Linked DNA regions of Homo sapiens. The protein of the gene in region 1 interacts with the protein of each later gene in a biochemical or structural test. Each region holds a gene or a part of one and is shown in the gene's direction. Other genes may lie near its edges.

Region 1 (5,229 bases):
TGCCACCACTAATGGTTCTTCTACTAGTTTTTATATTATTTAACAAAAAGGCACTTTAAAAATGCACTCCTGGCAATCTATACTGGAATATGAAAAACATGCTGCAAAACCTTGACACTCCAAGTGTGGTCTTACAGTTCCCAGAATCCCCTCCTTGAGGAGCTGCTAGAAATGCTGAATCTCAAGCATCTCCCCAGACCTACTGAATCAGAGCCTGCATCTGAAGCTTTACGGTGTACAAGCTGTTTTATGTGAAGGCTGAAGTTTGAAAAGCACTGCATTAAAGCGTTAGTTTGGTATAAACTGCCCTGACTGAACTTGGTGTGTCCACTTAGCTTGCATGATGACTGTTGCTTTGATGATGAAGGCTTACACGGGTAGATCCTTTGAGTGAGTGATCTGACATGATTCTCCTTTGCTAAGGCATCTAGATTCAGTGCACAACTTACAGCTGTTTGTCTTTAGGGGAAATACAACTGTAAAATTAATAAAAACATAGTCTCTTCTTATGATAACATGGAACGATGGCAAAATAGATTTTGTTAGCACTTGGGTAGGAATTCTGAATGAAGCAGGCAAATTCTGTTGGCAGTGAAATGATAGGATGTGGTAAAGTTAGAATAAAATAAACTTAAATGTCTCAAACTCTCATGGTATATACTACCAGTTTAATAATAATGTTGTACCTTTGATGATTTGCAGACTACAAGCATTCAAGGTGCTGTGTTATATATTACTTGCTTGGAGAATAATACTTCTTAAAAATTGAAATTCAGAAATTTTAAATCAGACAAAGCTTTTGTGCATGGCCCACTTAAATGGCTATTTTGAAATAATGATAGTGGATATAGAAGGATTATTCTGTAATAGGATGAGACTGTTCCTTTTGTCATGGAGATCATAATCATATTTTTGTAAATTTTTATTATTTTTTTGGTTTTGTGTCCATCCTGCACACTATTACTGGGTAGGTACATGGTTTTTTAACATGGTTTATCTTTCAAAACTATAAAGGCATTGCAAACAGAAGACAGGTCATTTATTTTTCTTCCAAAAGCATCTAAAATGAGATTTTGATATTTGAGGTCATAAAGAGGTGAGAGAACAGACAACAGTTGGGAAAGCTATTTCTCTTGAAATTGTTTGGCCTTAATTACTACAGTGTCCTAGTACCACCCATACGTTTCCAAAGAAGTAGATCCCTGTAAATGCCTTTGTCTCTGGACTTTTGAGTAAAATAGTAGGGTGTGCTTTGCAAAATGTCATCGTTGATGTTGAGTTTCAGAGTCTTTAATTAGGAAGCTGAAATCTGTATATCGAGATTTGTAAATCATCTAAATTGCAGAGTAATGTTTTAGAATACTGCTTAAGGGATTGGCATTAAAGCCTTTTTTAAAAAAGAAATGCAATAATTTCCTCAAATCCTCACTCATTAGACCTCTACTAACTATAGTGCTGACTTTTTTTTTTTTTTACCCTAAAGTCTGGAATTCCAAAGAAATGCTTCACCATTTCCCCCATTATTATAGCCACCTGGAAGCAGTATTCATGTATTAGATCAAAAACACAACAAAGAATTATGAAAGGTTGTTTCCTGGTATGCAATGCATGATGACATGAACTTACAGAACAGAGAGAAGGGAGGCTCCATGTTTATTTAAAGAGGAAATTTTTATTTTCTGGTTACCTACTTTTACATGGGTTACATCAAATCCCACGATGAGGTTTAAAAATTCTCATAGATAATCAAACGTCATTACTTGGCTTACTGAAATTCAGACTTTTCTTTTTTCTTCCCTGTTTTTCTCTATCAAATTAGAATCTTTGGAAGAACTACCAGAAACGAGTGGGAAAACAACCCGGAGATTCTTCTTTAATTTAAGTTCTATCCCCACGGAGGAGTTTATCACCTCAGCAGAGCTTCAGGTTTTCCGAGAACAGATGCAAGATGCTTTAGGAAACAATAGCAGTTTCCATCACCGAATTAATATTTATGAAATCATAAAACCTGCAACAGCCAACTCGAAATTCCCCGTGACCAGACTTTTGGACACCAGGTTGGTGAATCAGAATGCAAGCAGGTGGGAAAGTTTTGATGTCACCCCCGCTGTGATGCGGTGGACTGCACAGGGACACGCCAACCATGGATTCGTGGTGGAAGTGGCCCACTTGGAGGAGAAACAAGGTGTCTCCAAGAGACATGTTAGGATAAGCAGGTCTTTGCACCAAGATGAACACAGCTGGTCACAGATAAGGCCATTGCTAGTAACTTTTGGCCATGATGGAAAAGGGCATCCTCTCCACAAAAGAGAAAAACGTCAAGCCAAACACAAACAGCGGAAACGCCTTAAGTCCAGCTGTAAGAGACACCCTTTGTACGTGGACTTCAGTGACGTGGGGTGGAATGACTGGATTGTGGCTCCCCCGGGGTATCACGCCTTTTACTGCCACGGAGAATGCCCTTTTCCTCTGGCTGATCATCTGAACTCCACTAATCATGCCATTGTTCAGACGTTGGTCAACTCTGTTAACTCTAAGATTCCTAAGGCATGCTGTGTCCCGACAGAACTCAGTGCTATCTCGATGCTGTACCTTGACGAGAATGAAAAGGTTGTATTAAAGAACTATCAGGACATGGTTGTGGAGGGTTGTGGGTGTCGCTAGTACAGCAAAATTAAATACATAAATATATATATATATATATATTTTAGAAAAAAGAAAAAAACAAACAAACAAAAAAACCCCACCCCAGTTGACACTTTAATATTTCCCAATGAAGACTTTATTTATGGAATGGAATGGAAAAAAAAACAGCTATTTTGAAAATATATTTATATCTACGAAAAGAAGTTGGGAAAACAAATATTTTAATCAGAGAATTATTCCTTAAAGATTTAAAATGTATTTAGTTGTACATTTTATATGGGTTCAACCCCAGCACATGAAGTATAATGGTCAGATTTATTTTGTATTTATTTACTATTATAACCACTTTTTAGGAAAAAAATAGCTAATTTGTATTTATATGTAATCAAAAGAAGTATCGGGTTTGTACATAATTTTCCAAAAATTGTAGTTGTTTTCAGTTGTGTGTATTTAAGATGAAAAGTCTACATGGAAGGTTACTCTGGCAAAGTGCTTAGCACGTTTGCTTTTTTGCAGTGCTACTGTTGAGTTCACAAGTTCAAGTCCAGAAAAAAAAAGTGGATAATCCACTCTGCTGACTTTCAAGATTATTATATTATTCAATTCTCAGGAATGTTGCAGAGTGATTGTCCAATCCATGAGAATTTACATCCTTATTAGGTGGAATATTTGGATAAGAACCAGACATTGCTGATCTATTATAGAAACTCTCCTCCTGCCCCTTAATTTACAGAAAGAATAAAGCAGGATCCATAGAAATAATTAGGAAAACGATGAACCTGCAGGAAAGTGAATGATGGTTTGTTGTTCTTCTTTCCTAAATTAGTGATCCCTTCAAAGGGGCTGATCTGGCCAAAGTATTCAATAAAACGTAAGATTTCTTCATTATTGATATTGTGGTCATATATATTTAAAATTGATATCTCGTGGCCCTCATCAAGGGTTGGAAATTTATTTGTGTTTTACCTTTACCTCATCTGAGAGCTCTTTATTCTCCAAAGAACCCAGTTTTCTAACTTTTTGCCCAACACGCAGCAAAATTATGCACATCGTGTTTTCTGCCCACCCTCTGTTCTCTGACCTATCAGCTTGCTTTTCTTTCCAAGGTTGTGTGTTTGAACACATTTCTCCAAATGTTAAACCTATTTCAGATAATAAATATCAAATCTCTGGCATTTCATTCTATAAAGTCCAACCTGTAAGAGAAAATGGTGCATTTGTATAGCGCTTACAATGATGACCTTGTGTTTGCATTTTTGTTTCTGAAGTTATATATTTTAGAGGGGGTGGGGGAAAGGTAATGAATGGCTGGAAAATTGCAGGCAAGTTATTTGATAAGTCATATTTGCACTAAAGGTGTTACCAGTGATTTAGTATTTTTCAAATGAACTTCTTTGGGGCAGAAAGATTTAAGGGAAAACTAAAGCCTACAAAACAAGCAAAACCTGGATAACCCGAGATAAAGTTTCAGAGATAATAGCCCATGCAACAGAGGCAACGGTGCCAGAAAATTAGAAAGGGAAAGTGTCGGAGATCAGCTTCTATAAGAACATCTGCCAGTTGGACTGACGCCCAAACAGAATGAAGTCAAATTAGGCTGCTCAGATTGAACACTTACCAGAGTGTCAGGGCTTCTGTACCCTGGGTTAGAATCAGACCAAGGAAGGGTTCAGCAGATGTTCATAAGAGCAGGGCACCCACAACTACCCACTATTTTACTGGCAGTATTTTAGGTCAGTTTCCAGGACTTTGCATCCCCTCTGATCCTGCCATGCATGATTGGTGAAACCTACCTCTAATCTCCTTGGAATTGGCTAAAAAACAGTGTGTTTATAATGGAACAGACTGTTATAATCAAATTCTTCCTAGGAATTAACTTTTGATGACTATGAGCTTAGTTACAGTTCGGAGGTTATGAGGTTATGTAAACCTTATCTTTAAATGTGCATGACAGTTATCTTTTACTAATGCTGGTTAACTTTTAAAATCTTGCAGCTCCTTTTTATCTCTAGTTCTATTGTTCTTGATTAGGTGAGAACCATTAGATCATACCCAACTGAGGGGATTGGGGTCTTGTTTGTTCTCCAGCTGTTCTTCACCCTCTATTGCCATGGACATGAAGGACAGACTGCACGGTCTTAACATGTTAAAACGAATGACCCATGTTTTCTCATATTCACATTCTCTAGATGAGAGCATGAGAGTATAGCACAAGAATTTCATCCTTTGGCAGTTCCATCCACCCTTTTGATTTCTCTGCTTCATTGGTTCTAATATTCTTGGTTAAAACTGTTTTCAATGGTGTCGACTAAAATGTGTTATCTTGCATATGCGTATTTAATATATAAAACATAAAATACATAAATATACATCTAAAGATGTATGTAATATGTAGTACATATGTATAGATGCTGGCATTTTCAGTTTAGTTTCAGAGATTTTATAATCAGACACTCTGACCCTCTTGGAAGCTCACATGAGAAACAATATTTTTACAAACATCCTACATTGTTACAGACATTTTAGCTCACAGTCTTCATTCCGAGGAATAAAGAGTCAAAATGAACATAACACTGAATGTCT
Region 2 (8,428 bases), on another chromosome or scaffold:
CAAATAGTTAATGTCCTAGGGAGATTGGCAGAAGGCAGAAATATAAGTTACCTTTGAAAGGTTGCCCCTTCAAACTTGGCCTCAAAGTAGTCCAACAGAAAAGGCCCCACTGAACATAAGCTCAGTATTCAAAATTCTAAAACCACATGAGGAAACAGTACCATGAATAAAGTCAGAAATAACAAATGTCAGAAGCAGACTTTCAAGAAGTTAAATTACAGAATTCTAAGAGAGATTTGGAAGTAGGCCAAAGTACAGAAGTATCAAAATTGACCAGGAAGTTTTTTTTTAATAGAACTTCTAGAAATGAAAAAATAGAATAATTGAATTTATAAATTGAGTAGAAGAACTAAACAACAGATTAGACATAGCTAAAGAGAGAATTCGTGAATTGGAAGTTGATCTTCAGGAATTACCTGTAATGGTGTTTAGACACAGAATTGGAAATTAGGAAAGGAGGGTTAAGAGACTGGGCAGAATAAGAAGGTCTAATATGCTTATAATAGGAATTTCAGAATCATAGAATTTGGAGATGCAATATTCAAGTTGATAATAGCCAAGAATTTGTCAGAATTGACAAAAAACACAAATCATTAGACTAAAGGCATAGTGAACCCCAAATAGTATAAATTTAAATATATACTTAGACACATACCTTGTAGTGAAACTGCCAAGAGAGAAAGCAGCCAGAAAGAAAAAAACAGAATATCTGCAAAGTTAAATTAATAGCAGACTTTTCAGCAACAGTAGTGGAAGCTAGAAAATAGTGGAATAATATTTTCAGAGAGCTGAGGTAAAATAACAATCTAAAATTTTATGTTCATCTAAATTGCCATTCAGGAAGAAAGACAAAACATTTTGAGAAAAGCAACAAAGGCTCCTCTGCCAAGAGATCTCTACTGAAATATTTTTTTTCAGTAAGGACAGTGATCTCAGAAAGAAAGGCAGAGATGCAGGGAGAGATGACTGTATGGATGCTTACAAAATATAGACACAAATAATGTCTGATTTGGGAGCTGGGTAGTAAGAACAGTGACACTAAATACGGAACACAAGCAATATGTTAAATTAGATGTACATTGGAAGAGTCATTAGAGTTTAAAATATTTAAGTTCCAATGAGGGATGGTAGAGATGTTGATTTAGGCTTTTAGTATAAGTGTACCCATTAAAGTTTATAGGCCTAGCTTACAACGGAATAGGAATGAGATGTATAACTTTAAAAGTGGCTAAAATAGGAAATTTTAAAAGATAATCCAAATAGAGGTAACGGTAGAAAAGAAACAAATTTAAACATACCCAGTAATCATATATATAAACATACCCAGAAATCATAAATGTAATGAGACCGAACTCTAATTAAAAGATGGTGTTAGATTGAATTGGGGGGAGGGAAGAGAGAAAGATTTTTTGTTTAAGTTAGAAAAGGTAATTTTCTCTAATACTAACACACGAAATGTCATATAGCTATGTTAACATCAGATAAAATGGACTTTTTGGCAAAGAGCATTCATTACAAATGAAGAGGGTTACTATATAGTAAGAAAAATTTTATTACCAAGAATATATAAAATAATTTCTGTAACTCAAAGGAAAAGTAATCCAGTAGAAAAATGAGAAAAGATACAAACAAACAGTTCTCAGAAGGAAATGTTAGTAATCACAAGAAGATGATCAGTCTCACAAGTAATCAGGGAAATGCAGATCCAAATTGTGTACCATTTCACACTCACCAGGTGAACCCCAGGTGGGGGCTGTCATCTGTTGGGAACTTGGATTGGCACATCCACTTTGGAGAACAGTTTAACAGTATTTAGTCAGTTGATCTTTAGACTCTATGACCTAGCCAAGAAACGCCCACACATGAGTGCACACACACACGCACACACACAAATGTAAAAAAGAAGTCATGATGGCATTGCTGAGATCAACAAACATAAATAACCTGAGTCCAGTAGGTGAGTGGATACTTAAAGTTATGTGAGGTTATAAGCTTCTGAAATAAATGCACTTCAGGGCTGCAGGAGAGGCAGCAGTATATAAAGAACATGCACTCTAGAGACAGGCTGCCTGGGGTTTGAAGCCTGATTTTGACACTTAATAAGTAACTTGGGTAGGTTACTTAATCTCTTTGTGCCTCAGTTTTTATAAAATGAGGACCTGCACAGGTTTATCGTGAGGATTAAATAAGTTACTCTTTGCAGAATGCTTAGAATAGGACCTGGGATGTAGTGTGAGCTGTATAAGTGTTAAATTAATGCATATCAACCTGGATGGCTTACAAATATATGGATGAAGGACAAAAAGCATATGTATTAGAGATTGTATTTGGTTGCTAGAAATAGTCAAGAGTTATTCTCTTGGGTAAAAGAAATGCAAAGACACAATGTTGGAATATTTTGGGTTTTTTTCTCCCCTATTGTACATGCCGCTCCACAGTGTGCATACACGTGTGTGCATGTGTCAGTGTCTTTATCTGTTATACACTCCAGCCTTCCTTCCTGGCCCCATCTGTCTCTTCAGGTTCCCTCCATCTCTACACCCCAGCTGCCCTTACTCTGCTGCTGGGGAGGTGGTGGAGATGCTGCTTTGTGGAGCTGGGGGCTGTGGAATCATAACATGGATAAGTCACTGCTCTTGGCCCTCCTTCGCTCTTATGGAGGGACCTGCTAGGGCTATAAAGGCAGCTGAGCAGACTCAGGGCTGCCTTTCGAGGGGTGCTGTCTGTGGGGAGAGCTGCCTTTCCTCTCTGGGCAGATGTGAAGGCTGGACACCAGAGGGAGAACACTGGCCCTCCTGAGATGTTCTTGCTTGTCTTCCTCTTGGGCATGGAGGCTTCTGGCAGGGTGTGCCTCAGTGTGCTGGCAGAAGCAGACCTAGATAGATGTAGTGGTGAGTGGCACTCCTTCTCACCTGGTGAGTGGCACTCCTTCTCACCACTACAGTGCCCACAAGGGTGGGGCTGGGCACCTGCTCCCTGGGGTAGGTGGCTGCCAAGGGGCCTCCAGGAGCCAACTGAGCAGTGGTTCTGCTGGCTGCTGGGGTCACAGTTCCTCTAGGAGACACTGGCTGGACTGGGGACACCCAAGTGCAGAGCTCAGGGACTCCAGGGGAGGTGGGCATGGACACTCCACCTCTGAACCATCTCCTCTTCTTTCTCTCCCCATTGCACTTTGAGCCCCTCACAGATGGGACCTTGGTGAGGTTTCTCCCTTTTCTCCTCAGGGCATAGTGGGTATGTCCAAGGCCTACTGGACTGAGCTGCTTCATAGGAGAAACGAACCTCCCAGTATTTGACCTCCCAGTGCGTGTCTTCGAGCATCCAAACTAGCCGGCTTAGGTTCTGCTACCAGGAATGTTGGTTCAGAGTGCAGTCTGCATGTACTGTGTGTGTGTATGTGCATGTACTGTGTGTTTGTGTGAGGGTCGGGGGTGGTGTATGTGGGAGTGGTCCTGCCAGGAGGGATGGTTTGGGGAGCACTGGGTACTTTCTCTCTACTGGCATTAGGCCCCTTGGAGCATAGGGACTGCCCCTTGGGGACACTGCCACTTTTATTTCAGCTTCCTTTGGAGGCCAGCAGTTGGTTTGGCTGTGACTCAGGGATGCAGCAAGCCCCTTGTCCTGGTGTCTGGGGGCCATGCTCACTTACCTCAGGGCTATGAAGCAGCAGGCCTAAGGGGGTACCATAAGCACCCGCATCTTGGGAGCATGGCTTCTCCTCCTGCCAGGTTAGGCGAGTGGGCTGGGGGTCAAGGGGAGCCTCCTGTGCATGGATGCCCTGGCTTCCTGGGTGTGGGTGGGAATCTGTATCTATTAAAAGGCAGAGGTGGCCTGTGGTTGGAGTATTGCCAGAGGCTATAAATAGCTGAGTGTGTGAAGAAGGAGAGTCTGGGGAAGAGAGAGGAATGGGGGAGGCCCCTGGGTCTCCAGGTGGCAGCAGAGCCCTGTGGTGAGGGAGGGGCATGGGCTCTGAACATAAAGCTCTTGTAGGCATGGTGTGACTTGATGGGCTGGGAGTCATACAGGGGACTTGTGTTATGAGGGATTGTCATAGGCAGTAGGGGATGGTTGTGGCTGTAATATAGCCAATGTGCCAGGCAGTGTTCTAACCACTCTTAAAGTGCATTAACTCAATTAGTTCCTACAACTACCCTAGCTGTGAAGTATTGGAGTAGGACTTGAAGTCTGGCCCGCTCACGGCTGCCATTTTTCGCTGGGTTGCCTGTAGGAGGATCTGGTCAGATGGGGGTCAGGTGACATCTTTTTGAAATGGAGTCTTGCTCTTGTTGCCCAGGCTGGAGTGCAATGGCACGACCTCAGCTCACTGCAACCTCCGCCTCCTGGGTTCAAGTGATTCTCCTGCCTCAGCCTCCTGAGTAGCTGGGATTACAGGTGTCCGCCGCCATGCCTGGCTCATTTTTGTATTTTTAGTAGAGACCAGGTTTCACCACATTGGCCAGGCTGGTCTCGAACTCCTGACCTCAGGTGATCTGCCCGTCTCAGCCTCCCAAAGTGCTGGCATTACAGGCGTGAGCCACCGTGCCTGGCCCAGCTGACATCTTGAACCCTTGGGTCCTCTGAGATTTGGAACTCCCAGCCTCTTCACTTGGGTACTGCCCATGGTAGTGGCAAGTGGGTGGTCCCTGACTTATCAGTGGCCTGGAGAGAGGAGGTTACTCTGTTGGCCTCCCTTGTTTGGGCTCCTGCCTCAGCACAGAGGCTTGTTGCTTGTCTGAATGGAGATGGAAACTCTTTGAGGACCTAGGGCTTGGGCTGCAGGCTGAGGCCATCCTTGTTGTCCCCTCCTTTCGACATGTTGCTCTAGCCATGATACCTATACCCTTCTGTCCTTCTGTCTGTCCACCCATCCATCTATGATGTGTTTGGAATGATTCTGCCACTTAGGACGGCAAGGGTCCTGCCTTTGTCGGCTTTCCAGTCTTGTGGGGAAAGCCTGACATTTAGAAAGTAGTTGTCGAGTACATGTGTAATGTTTTATTTCTCATACAAGTGTTCATTGTGTTATTTCCTCTTGAGATTATTTTTGGTTATATTATTGGTACACTTTTTGGATGTCTGAAATAATCCTTTAAGCAACAACAGGCCATTAGTCAAGGGTGGTTAAGTTAGGTGGCAGGGGAAGCACAAGGGCCAGTGGAAATAGAGAGTTTGCCTGGTCTCAGGGGAGAGGGAAGAGCCGAAATCAGAGGAAGGTGGGTAACCTTACGGCCAGAGGTGGTAACTTCCGACTTACGCTAAGCCTAGAAGCCAAACACATTCAAGGGTGTGACATTATGGTGTGGCTGCAGTGAGGGGAGGAAGGTAGGGGAGTGCCCAGCTTCCCTGTCTGCAGTGCAGCTTCATGGCTGGCCCCACAAGTCTCAGGTCTCCACGGACCCCCACTAGAACTGCTGCCGTGGATGCAGTGGGGCCCAGCCTGGGGAGAGGAGGCCCTGTGGCCTCTGGGCAGGGTGCTTCGAATAACCCAGTAATTGGGTGCTGCTGCAGGCAGACAGGGACAATGTAGGTGCAAGCCTCAGTCCTGGCCCCGGTGTGCTTGTTCAGCCTTTGGTCTACTACCCCCACCCCACCCTCTCAGGTTCTCCCTCTAAACCTTAAAGCCACATGCTTGATGAAGGGCCTGGCTGGGGAAGCCAGTGTGTACCCTTGTAAGCCTCTCTGTGGACCCTGAGGCCCTTCCTTTAGAAGAGGCTGAGTCCCAGCTGACTGACTGGTCAGGAGGCCATGCATTTTCCTTTCACAGGTGTCAGAGCCTAGGCCACCTGGTGCAGGATGACCAGAGCTGTGGCTGGGCACTGCCATTCTGATTGGGTGACATTTCGGACCCTTAGGTGCTACCTGGATCCTTGAGATTCGTTGCTTGCTCCTGCCCCTGGAAGAAGCATCCTGTCACTTCAGGGAGTTGCAGAAAGGGGTTGGGTTTGACAGGAGAATGGCCGCTCCAGTGGTGGGGGGCTTCTTTCACCTGACAGCCAGTCAGTATCCTTCTCTCTGGGGTATACCCTGGGAAATCAAGCTCTTTCCTCATGAAGGCCAACAGTAGGGGTGGAGATGAGCGTGAGGATGTCCTTAGGCTACGCTAGTGTTCAGGGTACTTTGCCCTCCCCCAGGGTCAGGGCAGGGTTCGTGTTCTTTCCTACTCCAGTCAGCCTTTCAGGCTGATGGCGAAGTAGGGCTCTTGGCTGCTGGTGGGCTGGCTGTCTGGTGGGATTGACTCTGACCCCTCCCTCCTTCCTGGGATGGGAATAGTGGTAGGAGAAGACCAGCCAGGAGTGGTGCCAGGTCACTGGCCTATGTGGGCCCAAAAAGTGTGGATAGGATGGCTGGATGCTTGGTGCAACTATCCTCTCGGGTGTCTGTGTGGGGTTCTGGCAGTGAGGTTGTAAATGCCACCACCTGCCTCCATTGTGGGCGGCCTATAATGGGGTGCTGGCAGAGCTCTCAGACAGAACCGAACCTCCTTTGGCATCTCCATACTCTTTCCTATGTCAGGGCTATGTGGTTCCTGCGGGTAGTGGGAGTAGACTGGGGCTGGGACTGGAGGTTGTTTTGTAGGGGATGGTGAGGAAGATGGATTTGGGGAATGTTTGAAATCAAGTTTGAAGGAAAGTGTTTGAATGGGCAGGTGGGGGTTGAAGTCGTTGTCCACCTGGATGGCACTTCCTGCAGCAGGTGGAAGGGGGTTCAGAAGTGATGGGGAGTGCCCTGGGGTCATCAGGAGCCTAGCCAGGAGAATGATCTGTGATTGCAGGTTAAGCCACCAGCTAGCTCTCCTCTGCCTGAGGCATGTATTCCCCTTGGTGACTCTGGGAGGCTTACCCTGTACACGCAGGCCTCATTCCTTAAGTTCTCCAGCCCTGCCGAGCACCAGGTGTGGTTGCTGGGTGTAGAAAGGACACTTACAGGGTCCTTTCCATTCCGTATGGGCAGGGAGTTGTGGAGGACCCACTGGCATGGTCTCCCTGGGGAACTGTTGTGAGAAGGGGGCTTGGGGGCAGAGACAGGAGCAGCAGGAAGCCACTCCCCTTTGTAGTTTTCCCAGGTGGTCCTTGAGATCTTTATCACAATCACCTGAGACAGACAGGGGTGATTAAAAGCACATATTCTGCCCCCATTCCCATTGGGATGGGTCTGGATTGGGCCTGGAAATACGTATTTGAATGAACACTGCTCCCCTTTCCCACACCTGCAACATACAGTGATTCCGATGTGCACTGGGGTTTTAAGGGGGCCTCTTCATCGGTTTCTGCTGCAGCAGGGAAGTAGCCCCCACCCCCACGCAGGAGCCTCAGGTGTTGGTGCCCTTTCTGTGCATCTGGACTCTGTCTGTCTGGCTGTTTATCCATCCTTCTGTGGCATTAGGTTTCCTGCCTCCTCCCTTTTGCTTAGGCCTAGGGGCAGCTGTGATGGGCTGCAGAATGAGGTGGGGGCTGGTGCCAGCTGGCACACGTAAATTAAGAGGTGTGGGACGGATGGGTGGCCTACGTCCAGGGGTGAGTGCAGGAGGTTGGTGACCCCAACCCACCACCCGGCCTCCCTCCCTCAGGGTGGCCTGGCACCCAGGACTGGGAGTAGGGGTTTGGGTGGTGGTCCCAGGGGCATGCTCAGTGGTTCTCTTTTCTCTGGGGCACAGGCTCTGGGCGTGGGGAGGCTGAGACACGGGAGTGCATCTACTACAACGCCAACTGGGAGCTGGAGCGCACCAACCAGAGCGGCCTGGAGCGCTGCGAAGGCGAGCAGGACAAGCGGCTGCACTGCTACGCCTCCTGGCGCAACAGCTCTGGCACCATCGAGCTCGTGAAGAAGGGCTGCTGGCTAGATGACTTCAACTGCTACGATAGGTACCCCAAGACTTGCCCTCCTTTCCTCTTGGACCCACCTGCGCTTATACTGCCCACTGGGCCATTTGGGTCTCAGGATGTCTGAGTGGGAGATAAAGGACCAAGAAGGGGCTCTTGAGATGGTAGCCATGGCCCCACGCCCTTCCACACCCTATTTGTCCTACCTTAGCCCTGAGGAGGGGTCTCAGTGTCAACCCCTGGCTGTTCTTCCTTGGCTTTGGGTCTCCTGTAGGGGAGGTGAGTTCACACCGTCCCCCTGGTGTTGCCCATGAGGTGCTCTGTCTGTGAGGAGGGGTTGGCAGGGCAGGCCTGGGGGAGTCTTGCATCCCCCAGGTGAGGGGTATATGGAAAATTCTGTGCCTCCAGGCAGGAGTGTGTGGCCACTGAGGAGAACCCCCAGGTGTACTTCTGCTGCTGTGAAGGCAACTTCTGCAACGAACGCTTCACTCATTTGCCAGAGGCTGGGGGCCCGGAAGGTAAGGGGGCAGTGTGGAAGTGGGGCCTTGAGTCAGCCGACCTGGGCTTCTTTGGCTTGGAGCGCTTGGCTCCTCAGTTGGGTGGGGTGT
Region 3 (8,428 bases), on another chromosome or scaffold:
TCACCATAACTTTTTTTGTAGGGCCAGCTTCTGGCTGGGATGTGCTAAGCAGTTAAAGGAACAAAGGCCAGAGAGGAGTTGGGGTAGATTGCTTTGTTACAATGTGTTACCTTGGAGGTATCAATTACACAGGGCCCCTTCATGCCTTCATACTCAGAAAATGTGGGTAATTCACCTCTCCTTCCACAAGTTAAATGGGAGATGAATTGAGAGCCTCTAGGTAGATCTTGGCGGATTCCTCACTGGCTTACCACAGCTGCTACTGCTCTGAGCTTTGGTTCTTCTTGCAGGAAAGAATCAGAAGGGGGCCCAGACCCAGACAGAGGAGGAGATGACCAGATATGTCCAGGAGCTCCAAAAGCATCAGGTGAGTGGCAGCCTCCGTGCTGGTTCAGGTGTTGCTGTTGCCATCAGGCCCTATACCATTCAAACACTGCCCAGTGCCCCAGGAGACCAAGGAGGCTCTCTCTGCTCAATACAGTACATCTTGAGTGATACCCCATCACCTGTACTATCAAACTGTGATACAGACAGTTCCCTGATAAAGTCCTCACAGGGCCCAGTAGGTCTCAACACATATAGGTTACAGCTCGGTGAGTGGCTGCATAAGGCAAAATCAGGCAGGTGGTGATTTGCAAATGAGGTGGAAGTGGTTTGCAAATGAGCGTGGTTTAAGGAAGTGTGTATCCTGTCATGACCAGTGTCCAGACCCAAAGACTGTGAGCTCCTGAAAGCAGGCTCTGTAACTTGCTCATCATTGTACCCTTGCAGTCTCACAGGGCCTGGTATGTAGTCAGCACTCAGTGAGCATGAAAGCAGTGGATTTGGGCCACAGCAGAAAGGATTTAAGTTCAACATCAGTCTGGCTAGAAAATAGCCTGGGGTTAACAAAGAGTCTCCTTCCCAGAGACTCAAGAAGATAATAAGAATTTTGTTCAGGTTCTATGTCATTAAGTTAAAGGCTTCCTTGGGGAAAGGGTTCTTAGCAGAATAGTGATGCTCTGACATATTGTGGAACTGTTGAACTCCTGGCCCATCCTCCTACTGGCTTATTATGTAGTCTTAATACAGGATATTGCACCTTCCATTACCTGTCCGTAGACCGAATGTAGTAGTATTAGCCTTCTCTCTGACATAGAAGTTTTTAAGGAATATAATGGTCACAAGAACTGCTAAACTATTGATATGAAATATTTGACATGAGTAAACAGAACTATTACTATTAATAGTAATTGCCCATTTATTGATCATTCTTAATGTGCATTTTGTCATCATTGTCACTGATAGTATAGAAATCTCATGTCGGTTGTTTAAGCAGAAGCAAAAGCTTCTAGTCTTTTGCTTTTCAAATTTCACCAGTCTTGAGTCTCCAAATGAGTTCAATCCCATGAAAGAGAAAAAAACTTCATAGGAATTACTTTCGTCTAGAATATCAGACAGTACAGTTATCAGACAGTACAGAGTGAATTATAGTAGCTAATATGTTTAAGTTTCTGTGTTTGATGTGAGTCCCCTCAGAGCAGATGCTGAGGCAAGGATGCAAGTACACATAGTTTATTTGGGAAGCAATGCCAGGAAACACCAGAGGGAGATTTGGGAAATGAGTCCAGAAAGAGAAGGAAGTAATGAAGAGTGTGTATTCAGGCATGTTACCACTGTTAACAAGTGACTCTTAATCCTATTGGGGATCTCTGGGAATGGAATAACAGTGCCTGAGTGGGGATGAAGCTGGGCTGTTTCTACAAGAACTCCCATTAGCCATTGGCTGAGGGCTGCTACTGGGAAATGTTAATTCCCTGGCATTTGTGGCCTATCAGTGTGTGTGGACAGAGTGGGCTCCAGCAGCCAGAGAAAGGCCTCAGGCAGAGATGCAGGTGCTGGCAGTAGGTAGGAAGTCATGCCAGTGTACACCAAGACATTAAACACAAAGGGGCGATGGATGGAACACCAGTGTCTGCTAGATATCAGGCAATGTTGTCAGGTTTTAAAAATTTATTTCTTTAATTGAGATATGATTCATATACCATAAAATTCACCCCTTTAAAGTGTATATTCCTAAGATTGTCAATCATCTCACTACTATCTTAATTCCAGAACATTTTCATTATCCCAGAAAGAAATCCCATACCCATTAGAAGTAACCCTCCATTCTCATCTTCCTCCAGCCCTTTGCAGCCACTAATCTACTTTCTAACTATAAATTTGCCTGTTCTGGACATATTACAGTGGTATCATACAACAGTATAGCCTTTTCTGTCTTTGACTTAGCATAATGTTTTCAAGGTTCATTCTTACAGCATGAATCAGTACTTCTTTCCTATTTATGGCTGAGTAATATTCCATGATACGAATATACCACATGTTGTGTTATCCATTCATCATTTAATGGATATTTAGGTTGTTTCAATTTGGGGGCTCTGATAAATAAAGCTGTTAGGAACATTTTCGCACAAGTTTTTGTGTGGACACATGTTGTCAGCTCTCTTGGGTATTTACCTAGAAGTGGAATTGCTGGGTCATACGGTGACTCCATGTTTAACCTTTGGAGAAATGGCCAAACTGGTTTCCAAAGCTACTGCACCACTGTACATCTTCACCATAGAGTTCCAATTTCTTCACATACTCACCAACGGTTTTGTTATTGCTATTTTTTATTTTAGCTGTCCTAGCGGGTGTCAAGTGGTTTTGATTTGCATTTCCCGTGTGATTAATGATGTTGAGCATCTTCTTATGTCCTTATTGGCCATTTTGTGCCAGGCACTGTTGTAAGAGATGGTACTTTATTACTGTGGTTTTGCAGTTGAAGACATTGAGACACAGAAGATTTCATAATATGCCCAAGGTCACCCAAAAAGTAGCACAGCCATGGTTGAAGCTCAGGCAGTCTGCCTCCAGAACCTGTTGTACTTAACACTTCTTTGGACTTGTTGGATTAAGAACATCTTGTAGCATTTCCATTTAACATCATTTTCTTCATCCTTAAAATGGGAACCATAATGTCTGATCTGCTTGTTTCATAGGAGTCCAAATGGAGTCAGCTTAATTCAGTAAACAGCCCCTGCATGACCATGTCATGAATAGGCCATAGTTCTTGTTCTCAAATTGTTCATTGTCCGTGGAGGAGCCCGACAAGTAAACAACTAAAATTCAGCATAAGCTTGTAAATGCCAATGCTATATAGTCTTGAGGAACAGATAAATTCCAACAGTTGTTTAATATTTCCATGACGCCTATTTTCTCTTGCATCTCAAAGGAAACAGCTGAAAAGACCAAGAGAGTGAGCACCAAAGAGATCTAATGAGGAGGCACAGACCAGTGTCTGGATCCCAGCATCTTCTCCACTTCAGCGCTGAGTTCAGTATACACAAGTGTCTGCTACAGTCGCCAAATCACCAGTATTTGCTTATATAGCAATGAGTTTTATTTTGTTTATTTGTTTTGCAATAAAGGATATGAAGGTGGCTGGCTAGGAAGGGAAGGGCCACAGCCTTCATTTCTAGGAGTGCTTTAAGAGAAACTGTAAATGGTGCTCTGGGGCTGGAGGCTAGTAAGGAAACTGCATCACGATTGAAAGAGGAACAGACCCAAATCTGAACCTCTTTTGAGTTTACTGCATCTGTCAGCAGGCTGCAGGGAGTGCACACGATGCCAGAGAGAACTTAGCAGGGTGTCCCCGGAGGAGAGGTTTGGGAAGCTCCACGGAGAGGAACGCTCTCTGCTTCCAGCCTCTTTCCATTGCCGTCAGCATGACAGACCTCCAGCATCCACGCATCTCTTGGTCCCAATAACTGCCTCTAGATACATAGCCATACTGCTAGTTAACCCAGTGTCCCTCAGACTTGGATGGAGTTTCTGGGAGGGTACACCCAAATGATGCAGATACTTGTATACTTTGAGCCCCTTAGCGACCTAACCAAATTTTAAAAATACTTTTTACCAAAGGTGCTATTTCTCTGTAAAACACTTTTTTTTGGCAAGTTGACTTTATTCTTCAATTATTATCATTATATTATTGTTTTTTAATATTTTATTTTCTTGACTAGGTATTAAGCTTTTGTAATTATTTTTCAGTAGTCCCACCACTTCATAGGTGGAAGGAGTTTGGGGTTCTTCCTGGTGCAGGGGCTGAAATAACCCAGATGCCCCCACCCTGCCACATACTAGATGCAGCCCATAGTTGGCCCCCCTAGCTTCCAGCAGTCCACTATCTGCCAGAGGAGCAAGGGTGCCTTAGACCGAAGCCAGGGGAAGAAGCATCTTCATAAAAAACTTTCAAGATCCAAACATTAATTTGTTTTTATTTATTCTGAGAAGTTGAGGCAAATCAGTATTCCCAAGGATGGCGACAAGGGCAGCCAAGCAGGGCTTAGGATATCCCAGCCTACCAATATGCTCATTCGACTAACTAGGAGGGTGAGTTGGCCCTGTCTCTTCTTTTTTCTGGACCTCAGTTTCCTCAGTGAGCTGGTAAGAATGCACTAACCTTTTGATTTGATAAGTTATAAATTCTGTGGTTCTGATCATTGGTCCAGAGGGGAGATAGGTTCCTGTGATTTTTCCTTCTTCTCTATAGAATAAATGAAATCTTGTTACTAGAACAAGAAATGTCAGATGGCCAAAAACAAGATGACCAGATTTGATCTCAGCCTGATGACCCTACAGGTCGTGCTATGATATGGAGTCCTCATGGGTAAAGCAGGAAGAGAGTGGGAAAGAGAACCACCCCACTCTGTCTTCATATTTGCATTTCATGTTTAACCTCCGGCTGGAAATAGAAAGCATTCCCTTAGAGATGAGGATAAAAGAAAGTTTCAGATTCAACAGGGGGAAGAAAATGGAGATTTAATCCTAAAACTGTGACTTGGGGAGGTCAGTCATTTACAGTTAGTCCTGTGTCTTTCGACTTCTGTGATTATTAACCCCACTCACTACCCTGTTTCAGATGCATTTGGAATACCAAAGATTAAATCCTTGACATAAGATCTCATTTGCAGAAAGCAGATTAAAGACCATCAGAAGGAAATTATTTAGGTTGTAATGCACAGGCAACTGTGAGAAACTGTTGTGCCAAAAATAGAATTCCTTCTAGTTTTTCTTGTTCTCATTTGAAAGGAGAAAATTCCACTTTGTTTAGCATTTCAAGCTTTTATGTATCCATCCCATCTAAAAACTCTTCAAACTCCACTTGTTCAGTCTGAAATGCAGCTCCCTGTCCAAGTGCCTTGGAGAACTCACAGCAGCACGCCTTAATCAAAGGTTTTACCAGCCCTTGGACACTATGGGAGGAGGGCAAGAGTACACCAATTTGTTAAAAGCAAGAAACCACAGTGTCTCTTCACTAGTCATTTAGAACATGGTTATCATCCAAGACTACTCTACCCTGCAACATTGAACTCCCAAGAGCAAATCCACATTCCTCTTGAGTTCTGCAGCTTCTGTGTAAATAGGGCAGCTGTCGTCTATGCCGTAGAATCACATGATCTGAGGACCATTCATGGAAGCTGCTAAATAGCCTAGTCTGGGGAGTCTTCCATAAAGTTTTGCATGGAGCAAACAAACAGGATTAAACTAGGTTTGGTTCCTTCAGCCCTCTAAAAGCATAGGGCTTAGCCTGCAGGCTTCCTTGGGCTTTCTCTGTGTGTGTAGTTTTGTAAACACTATAGCATCTGTTAAGATCCAGTGTCCATGGAAACATTCCCACATGCCGTGACTCTGGACTATATCAGTTTTTGGAAAGCAGGGTTCCTCTGCCTGCTAACAAGCCCACGTGGACCAGTCTGAATGTCTTTCCTTTACACCTATGTTTTTAAGTAGTCAAACTTCAAGAAACAATCTAAACAAGTTTCTGTTGCATATGTGTTTGTGAACTTGTATTTGTATTTAGTAGGCTTCTATATTGCATTTAACTTGTTTTTGTAACTCCTGATTCTTCCTTTTCGGATACTATTGATGAATAAAGAAATTAAAGTGATGGTTTTATTGGTTTCCTTTCCCCCAATTAAGGCCAAATAAAGTCGTGAGAACATTACCCATTTACTTCCTAAGAGTGGATTTGAGTTTCAGGAGCCTTAAAAAGGACTGAAGAGTTTCTCCTGGGACTACAGCTTGGATGGAAAGTTTACTCGGGGACTGGTAGAACAAGTTTCTTTGAAAGGATCATGGATAGTGGGTCTGGAGTAGAAGGTGATGACAAGTCAGAAAGTGTCTTAGTCCCTTCAAGTTGCTATAACAAAATGCCTCAGACTGGGTAATTATAGGCAACAGAAATGTATTGCTCACAGTTCTGAAGGCTGGGAAGCCTAAGATCAAGGTACCAGCAGATTCAGTGTCTGATGACGGCTTGTTGAAGCTTGCCTGCTTCAAAGAATGCACCTTTTTGATGCATCCCCACATGGTGAAAAGGGTGAACAAACTCCCTTAGGCCTCTTTTATAAGGGCACTTACCCATTCATGAGGGTTAAACTTTGATGACCTAATCATCTCCCAAGAGCCTCACCTCTCAATACCATTGCTTTGGGGATTCAATTTTAACATATGAATTTTGGGGGACATAAACATTCAAACCATAGCAGGTGCATTCCTGTATTGGGAAGACATTAAATTAAATGACTCGTAAATCCCCCATATGATTTAGGAGACTAAATGGCATCCAGTGAGGCTGACTGCAGTAGCCTGTGAGAAGGCAAATAAACATGGGAAGGTAGTACAGGGAACATGGAATCATTGCCAGGGACAGGCTAAATAACCTTAATGGCACTTCCTTGATACACACATTCCATGGGGGTAAACAGTTCCAAGTGGGCTGAACGTTAGCTGGTTAAAACCTCTTTTGCTTGGGGACACATGACTAACGCTTTCCAACCTGCCATTTTCATATGTATCATGCACTCTCCACCCACAATAATTCTGCCTCCCAAAAGAGCATATTATAGTCAATGAGGTTTAAGGTTTCTTCGGTTCAGTCATGTGGAAGTTTTGCTTTCCTAAAATTATAGCTGGATCACTTTGATTGGATTTGGGATATTACCCAAATGCTAATCAAATATTAAAAGGCAATCTTTTTTGTTATGTGATTGCTACAGATTACTGCTCTTACAGTTTGATTCTTCAAATTTTCATTCTCAGAAGGGAATCTTAAACCCAGTTTGAAGGGTACCTTGTCCACAACCACTTTTAAATTTTGGCTAACTTCCCAACCTTCCACCATGTTCTGGGAAAACTTTTTCTGCTGTTATAGTATGTATGTATTCAGGAAGTGCAACATTATTAAACTAAGCATAATTCAGAAGCTAAGTTTCCTTTCATCAAAATTTAATATTACGAATTGTGCAAAGAAGTATGTTACTTTGATCAGCTTTATTTTAGAGCTTCTTTATCAAGTTATCATCAGTCCTCTTGAATTATTTCTGAAATAAGGGGAAGGAAGGAAGGGAAAAAATATGAATGCATAGATAGATCTAAGCAGATGCCTTCAGAGCCCTGGAATAATCCTAGCTGGGATATGGGACATGAAAACAACTCTGGCCTACTGCTGCTGGGGGCTGTTGCATGGTGTGACATAGGAAGTAAAATGTTGCTGTATGAATAGGAAGGAGGGTCTTCCTGTCAATGAGAATTAATGTTTTCCTAATGATTTAACTTTTTTACTGAAAAAATAATATGTGTACATGGTAAAAATCCAAATTGTATCACAGAAAATACAGTGAATAAAACCATCCTCTTAAGAGGGTGTGTACATTTATAAATTTGCCTATGATTGCCTATAAAGTCAAAGAAGTTGCACCAGTATGCATGACTGCCAAAAGTACATAAACTGAGCATATCCATTTCCCTACATTCTTGCAAACATTGTGCCTTCGAACTTTTTGGCCTCTGATAGAGGAAAAATGGTAACTCCTTGTTTTATTTTTTATATTCATTATTCCTTTTGTAAGATTAAATATCATCTCATGAATAATTGGTTCTTGTCATTTTCTTCATTTTCTTTGTTTTTCTAATGGTTGCTGGTCTTTTTCTTACTGGTTTGTCATAGTTCTCCATAAGTATATCGTTAGCCCTTTGTTGTGAATGTGGCAAATACTTTCTCAGTTTGTTTTTCTTCTTTTGACTTTATGAGATGCTTTGCCTTGTAGAAAACTCGACTCTTTATATAACCCGATTTATACATCTTTTCCTTTCTGTCTTTAAGACAAAAGAACTTTAAAATCTGTGTCATTGTTGAAACTTAAGGACAGAAAACGGCCAGAGTAGAACTCTGATGCCCTCAAAAAGCATTCAGAAATGTCCACTTGGGGAGGACAGAACATGGCATAATGTAGTCATTGCCAGAGTCATGGAATATATAAGCTAAATCTAAGGTTGTAATTAAGGGAATAAGAACAATATAGTAGGGGATCCAAACTGTACCTCAACTATCCTTTGATCCATT

The links. Proteins that work in one complex are often made in the same cells at the same time.
Region 2: the proteins of BMP2 (region 1) and ACVR2B form a complex in vitro, tested with the Homo sapiens proteins (one study listed by BioGRID).
Region 3: the proteins of BMP2 (region 1) and FSTL1 interact in a biophysical measurement, tested with the Homo sapiens proteins (one study listed by IntAct).

The regions. Positions count from the first base shown.
Region 1 is NC_000020.11:6,776,426-6,781,654, forward strand, and holds the end of BMP2 (bone morphogenetic protein 2 preproprotein), read left to right. Parts: intron 1-1,819; coding exon 1,820-2,664; 3' UTR 2,665-3,821; downstream 3,822-5,229. UniProt on the Homo sapiens protein: Growth factor of the TGF-beta superfamily that plays essential roles in many developmental processes, including cardiogenesis, neurogenesis, and osteogenesis. Induces cartilage and bone formation.
Region 2 is NC_000003.12:38,469,633-38,478,060, forward strand, and holds part of ACVR2B (activin receptor type-2B precursor), read left to right. Parts: exon of another isoform or gene 1-1,908; coding exon of another isoform or gene 1,909-1,957; intron 1,958-7,654; coding exon 7,655-7,862; intron 7,863-8,228; coding exon 8,229-8,338; intron 8,339-8,428. UniProt on the Homo sapiens protein: Transmembrane serine/threonine kinase activin type-2 receptor forming an activin receptor complex with activin type-1 serine/threonine kinase receptors (ACVR1, ACVR1B or ACVR1c).
Region 3 is NC_000003.12:120,391,822-120,400,249, reverse strand, and holds the end of FSTL1 (follistatin-related protein 1 precursor), read left to right. Parts: intron 1-290; coding exon 291-367; intron 368-3,253; coding exon 3,254-3,298; 3' UTR 3,299-7,957; downstream 7,958-8,428.